Linked DNA regions of Homo sapiens: region 1 is linked to region 2. Evidence: fine-mapped expression QTL. A gene starts in region 2. The other region holds a variant in brackets. All regions are shown on one strand. Distances are from middle to middle.

The links.
Region 1: its variant is fine-mapped to the expression of ASIC1 in whole blood (TOPMed, PIP above 0.99).

The regions. Positions count from the first base shown.
Region 1 is chr12:50,668,438-50,671,345 of GRCh38, reverse strand. DIP2B (disco interacting protein 2 homolog B) reads right to left here. Exons shown (of 38, transcript NM_173602.3): 5 at 1-160. Among named protein-coding and RNA genes, the nearest start is that of ATF1, 94 kb to the left of the region's middle. The variant G/A (reference allele first, on the strand shown) is at 1,790.
Region 2 is chr12:50,056,435-50,059,342 of GRCh38, reverse strand. It overlaps ASIC1 (acid sensing ion channel subunit 1), which reads right to left and starts at 1,747. Exons shown (of 12, transcript NM_001095.4): 1 at 1,427-1,747; 2 at 215-592. The coding sequence starts at 576. RefSeq lists silencers at 1,545-1,714, 1,785-1,944.

The sequences.
Region 1 (2,908 bases), 610 kb before region 2:
TCTCCGTGGGACAGCGTAGAAGATGCGGATGAAGAAGTGGACGATCCCTGAATTGAACGGTTGATCCAGGACTCAGCATTCTGTAAGCTCTGTTGCAAGGCAGCAGAGAGCGCAGCTTGGCGTCTCAGAGAGCCCTCATCCTCAGAGGCCGAAGATGTGTCTGTGTGGAATTAGAAAAAAAGAAGTTCTCGATCCTACCTAGAACAGAGACTTTTCAGTTCTTGCTCATTGATCACACATTCAGTTTCGACACCAGCAAAACATTCGCATTCTTAAGGTAGATTAATATGTAAAGTTTCTCAAGAATCTCAAGGAAAAGTCTATGGACCAAAGCCTACAAAAATAAAATAGCCTAACTCCATAGGTAATTTTTAATTGTTTTCTTTTAAACTCTTTCAAAACATTTAAACTTTATTCCCTGCTTTTCTGTTGTAAGCTTAATCAGTATCTAAATTTTTCTAGTCCATCTACTTATGTTCAAATAATACTGAAGTACTTATATGTCTTCCTGAATCTCTTCTTGTGGTATGTTGCTACATTGATTTTGACAAAGTACTTATTAGTCTCTAAGGAAATGATCTTGACAGGGAGACATAAAAACTTAATTCTTGCTAAAAACGTATGTGCCAGGCCGGGCGTGGTGGCTCATACCTGTAATCCCAACACTTTGGGAGGCTGAGGCAGGCAGATCACCTGAGGTCAGGAGTTCAAGACCAGCCTGGCCAACACGGTGAAACCCCATCTCTACTAAAAATACAAAAAATTAGACAGGCATGGTGGTGCATGCCTGTAATCCCAGCTACTTGGGAGGCTGAAGCAGGAGAATCGTTTGAACCTCGGAGGCAGAGGTTTCGGTGAGCCACGATCGCACCACTGCACTCTAGCCTGGGCAACAGAGCGAGACTCCAACTCAAAAACAAAAACAAAAAACAAAAAACATACGTGCCAAACAGTGAGCTAGGTGCTAGGGAATGAAGTGGCGTAAACAATCCTTAGCCTGGACTTATTCATGGCCTTAGTAGGAAAGGCAGCCAGTCAGGGTGCACAGGTAAGCTTTCCAAGCATGACAGGAGAAGGCACAGCATCAGTATTTCTTTCTTTAATTTTCAGCTGGAGAAGAATTGTGAGAAATCCACTTATGTCTGTATTCAGCTTGGCTCTGACTTCAGGAAAATAGGCCTAAATTAGAAAAGCGTGCTGGGTGGGGGGTGGGTAAAAAAACTCAACCAAATATAGGGAAGCAAAAGCCGGGGAAAACAGAAGTCAGGAATTTATTTCAGGGTTCTAAGCTTATGAAGCACGCAGTTAAAGAGGGCATTTGGTCTAATGTGAGATAAACCTTTCTAAATGATTTCTGGGTGTTATGATTTACAACTTGTGGATTGAATTTCATTGTTTTTAAAAATTAAACATTCTGTGGTTAGTACTGCAGAACCCTTTCCGTCTAACTCAGGTGACACTGTAGGTTCATGTTCTGCTTTGGTTCAAAGAGCCAAATACATAACCAATGGGGCTGGAAAACTGCTGGCACCTCACAATGGGAACCTGAACCACAAAAGACTCATCTAATCTAGAAGTCAAATTCTGCAGGTCCAGAGCAAGAGAGAAAGTTAAAATAATGGGCCGGATGCAGTGGCTCAGGCCTGTAATCCCAGTACTTTGGGAGGCCGAGGTAGGTGGATCACTTGACGTCAGGAGTTCAAGACCAGCCTGGCCAACATCGCGAAACCCTGTCTTTACTAAAAATACAAAAATTAGCCAGGCATGGTGGTGCACACCTGTAATTCCA[G/A]CTACTCGGGAAGCTGAGGCAGACAAGAATCACTTAAGACCGGGAGGCGGAGGTTGCAGTGAGCAGAGATAGCATCACTGCCCTCCAGCCTGGGAGGCAGAGTGAGACTCCATTTCAAAAACAAAAACAAAAAACCCAGAAAGTTATATAATGACTATACCCTTGCTTCTTGTTCTGTACTACCTCCAACTTATTATTTCATATTGAGGAAGGTCTGAAGCCTGTGACTGTTTTTGCTTTTTAAAAAGTACTAATCACAACATGTGCCAGGAACTATGTCAAGTCCTAGGGGTTGTGAAGTGTATGAGTGCTTATGACACAGTAAGTGCCCTAAAAAGGCTTACAGGAGACACAGAAGCCCACAGATAATTTCAAAAGAATAAAACAGATGCTAAGAAACGGGAGTAATCAAAGGGTTTCGCAGGATGGGAACCAACCACAGTCAGGGATTTCAAGTACTTCTTTGTACATAGAGCAAAGACTTTGAAGAGTAAGGCAAAAAAATGAAAAAAATGAGGGTGGAGAGATAAATAGTGACCAGATCCCAAAGAGATAAAGTGATGAGGTCCATAAAGAAGAATGAGATCTATCATGCAAAAGGGGGGTGATTAAAAGAAAATTTAAAGAAAAAAAGAAGTAATCACATCTGTACCCCTTTAAGGAAAGCATTTTGTGTAATTTTCAGAAAATATTCTAACATTTCAACTGTACCCCGGGACACAAATATTCCTGTCTTAGCAAACATGTTAAAAAAAACAGAGAGGAAGTTGGGATAGGGCCCCTAGGATAGGTGAATTTGACCTTAAGAATAAAGTATTTTCAAGGTAAGTTATCTCAAGATTCCACAATCTCCATTGGATTTGTGGGCTGCTTTTATTGTATCATTTTATTGTATCATTTATATGTATTTTAATTTGTTTAAGTTTAAAATCAGAATAACCCAATTTTAAAAAGACAGTAAAACCAGTATTTTCATGATTAGGTTTATGGAAAATGGGTTTCATTATGTTTCTATATTGGATCAATTATGCAATTAGGTGTATTGTTTCAATTCAGTTACCCTGTTTGTCTGCCAGTCTTCAGTGTTTAATGACTTACAACTATGGGGCAGCTTAGCGT
Region 2 (2,908 bases):
CTGTTCTGGACTATGCTGGGATCGGAGGCTGGGTGCCCTTAACTGGGTGCTCAGCAGCACCCTAACTCCTCTGCTGTGAGTGGCAGGTTTGGGGGTGGGGGTGGGTTAAAGGGCAGGGTTGGCTGGGCTCTATGGTGGGTCAGGGAGGCAGACATCCTGACTGGAACTCAAGCAACTCCAGGAGCAGGGCTGAGGGAGGGTGGGAGCCACCCACCTGTTGTTGAGCAGGGCCAGCAGCTCCCCAGCATGATACAGGTCATTCTTGGAGACTTGGCTAAAGCGGAACTCGTTGAGGTTGCACAGCGTGACAGCAGGGAAGGTAAGCTGAGAGGCAGCCACCTCGTCGAGCTTGGTGACATGGTGGTAGTGGAAGTAGTACTGCACACGCTCCGTGCACACACACAGCAGCACAGCCAGGGAGCCCAGGAAGCACAGGGCCCACAGTGCCCGCTTCAGAGACAGCCGCTCGTAGGAGAAGATGTGGGCCAGGCCGTGCAGTGTGGAGCTGCTGGCGAAGGCCTGGATGCTCACCGGCTGGACGCCACCCACCTCCTCCTCCTCGGCCTTCAGTTCCATCCTTGTTGAGGGGATCCTGGGGGAGGAGGGAGGGACAGTCTATCATTGTCCTGGGATGAAAGTACACATGGAGCCCCTCCACATGTGCCCATCCAGAATCCTCATCTCCAGAGGTCACCACTCCTCGGGCAGAAGACTTCCCTGCTTTGCAAGCCCAGAGGTGGCTGACCAAGGGACACATCCAGGGTTCCTCCAAATACAGAGGCACAGGGGGTCAGGTCAGGCCAAGAGAATGCTCCCCAGAGAAGCTTCCCAGGCCCGGGGAGACCCCAGATATAGTCATCCGAGGTTGAGGGGGAAGTCCTGATGCACCCATAGGCAGGCGCAGGAGTTCCCTCCAGATGTGGGGTCACTCTGGGACAAGAATATCCACCCCATCCTGGAGATGAAAACTCACCCAGATGGGCTGACCCCGGGGTAAGGAGCTCCTGTCCTGGTCACGGGTATTCCCTGGACGGGGCTGTGGTCCTAAGGGCTAAACTGGGGCCAGAAAACCCCCAGGGAGGTGGCTACATCTAGGGAGGGGCCCAGCCTGAGTCCTCACCTGCGGGTGTCTCCAGTTCTCACATAAGCGCAGGCTGTGTGTATGTTGGGAGTGGGGGGTGGCGGGCTGCCCGAGGTGGATGTATGGAGGGGGGGCGCGGTTCCCTATGACAGCGAGCTGTCCCCGCCCCGGACGCAGCCCCCCCCAGTCCAGCTTCTCGTCGCAGTCAGATCCCCAGCTCGGCCCCCGCCCCCCTCCCCAGCCACCGAGCCGCCCCAGCAGCAAGGGAAATCCAGAGGGAGGAGAGTCCCGGCTTCGGGGTACCGAGGAGCCTCGCGGCCAAAGGCAGGGGTATCGGAAACCCACCTGAGGGGGCTTCGGCAAGCCGGCAGCCGGCGGCGGGTCCTGGGGCGCTGGACCGGTGGCGGGCTCAGCGCCGAGTCGCGGAGGGGCTCATGGCCCGGGGCCGGAGCCCGCGGCCGCCGCGGCACGCCGCGCAGAGCCCTGCAGGGAGCGCCCCGCCCGGCCCCGCTCGGCTCCGATCTGTCCGCCCGCCCGCGCGCGCTGGCTCGCTGGCTCGCTCGCCTCGGCTCGGTCTGCCCGGGCTCGGCGCGGTGCGCGGTGCTCTCAGCCCTGGGATCTGCAGGGATCCATCGTCCGGCCGGGAGGCGGCGGGAGGGGAGGGGGAGGGGAGAGGGTGCGCGTGCGCGCCTACGAGTGTCTGCGAGGCTGTCTCTGGGCTGGTGTGCGCGCGGGGCCCCGGATCCGGGAGCGGGACCCAGGGCTCCCCGCGCCGCCTCGCCCCTCCTCGCGGCCGCTTTCGGCGGCGCTGCCTCTCTCCAGTCCCGGAGCCGTCTCCCTGCCTGCGAGGCCCTATGGCTTGTGTGTATGACTCTGTGTGTGGTGTGTGTGCGCGCGCGCGTGTGTGCGCGCAGGAGGGAGGGTGTCTGCCCCTAGCGTCCCTCTCCCCGCGCTGTCTCCTTCGGATCGATGCTCCTGCCTCTTGCTGCTGCTTCCTCTGGTGGCACACACGCGCGTACACACACACATACACACACACGCTCCGAGTCACACTTGACTAATTCAAGCACTTAGCCCATATGGAGACAGACACACATACCGACCAGAGTCACACCACACCATTCACAACCACACCCCCCCGCAACAGATGTCCACGTATCCCGGGGGCCTGACCCACATGGCAAGCACTCACCTGCTCTTATCCCTGCTCCCACCTGCATGTGACACATATACACGTGCACATATGTGAGCCAACACGCAGCCTTGACCACTCAGATCCCATCCTTGTAGCTTTGGGCTTGTGGGGGGCATGGTCGCAACCCCTTACTGCCAAATCTCCAAAGAAGGAGCAGAGAAAAGGAAGGAAAAATAGCCAGAGGTCAAGGGAATTTGGACAGAAGGAAGGAGGCAAAGGGAGTGAAGGGGACAGGGTGAGGAAGGGTTGGAACGGGGAGCTATGCTCAGGGATGGAGCAGAAGTCTCAGCACAGAACGCAGGCCTGGGGGCTGCTCCTGTGGCTCTCACCTTTCTCCTTCCCTGCCTCCCTCCTCTTCTCTGAGAGGCCTTGGGGAGGGGGGCCCTCCCTATCCAATTAACAGAGAAGGAGCAATCAAGGGGAAGTTGTTAATTTGCTGATGCTCATTAGGGGCTCTTAGCACAGAGGCTGTTGAGGTCTGATGGTGTCAGATGATGAGGAGGAGGGTGCGGGGGACCAGAGTTCTGTCTCTAGTGGCTCCTTCGCTCTACTTGCAGGCTGGTGCGGCTCGGGGAGAAGGATGGTGAGAGGTGTATTCCTAGGACATGGTGCCGGGCTTTAAGTTAGAAGAA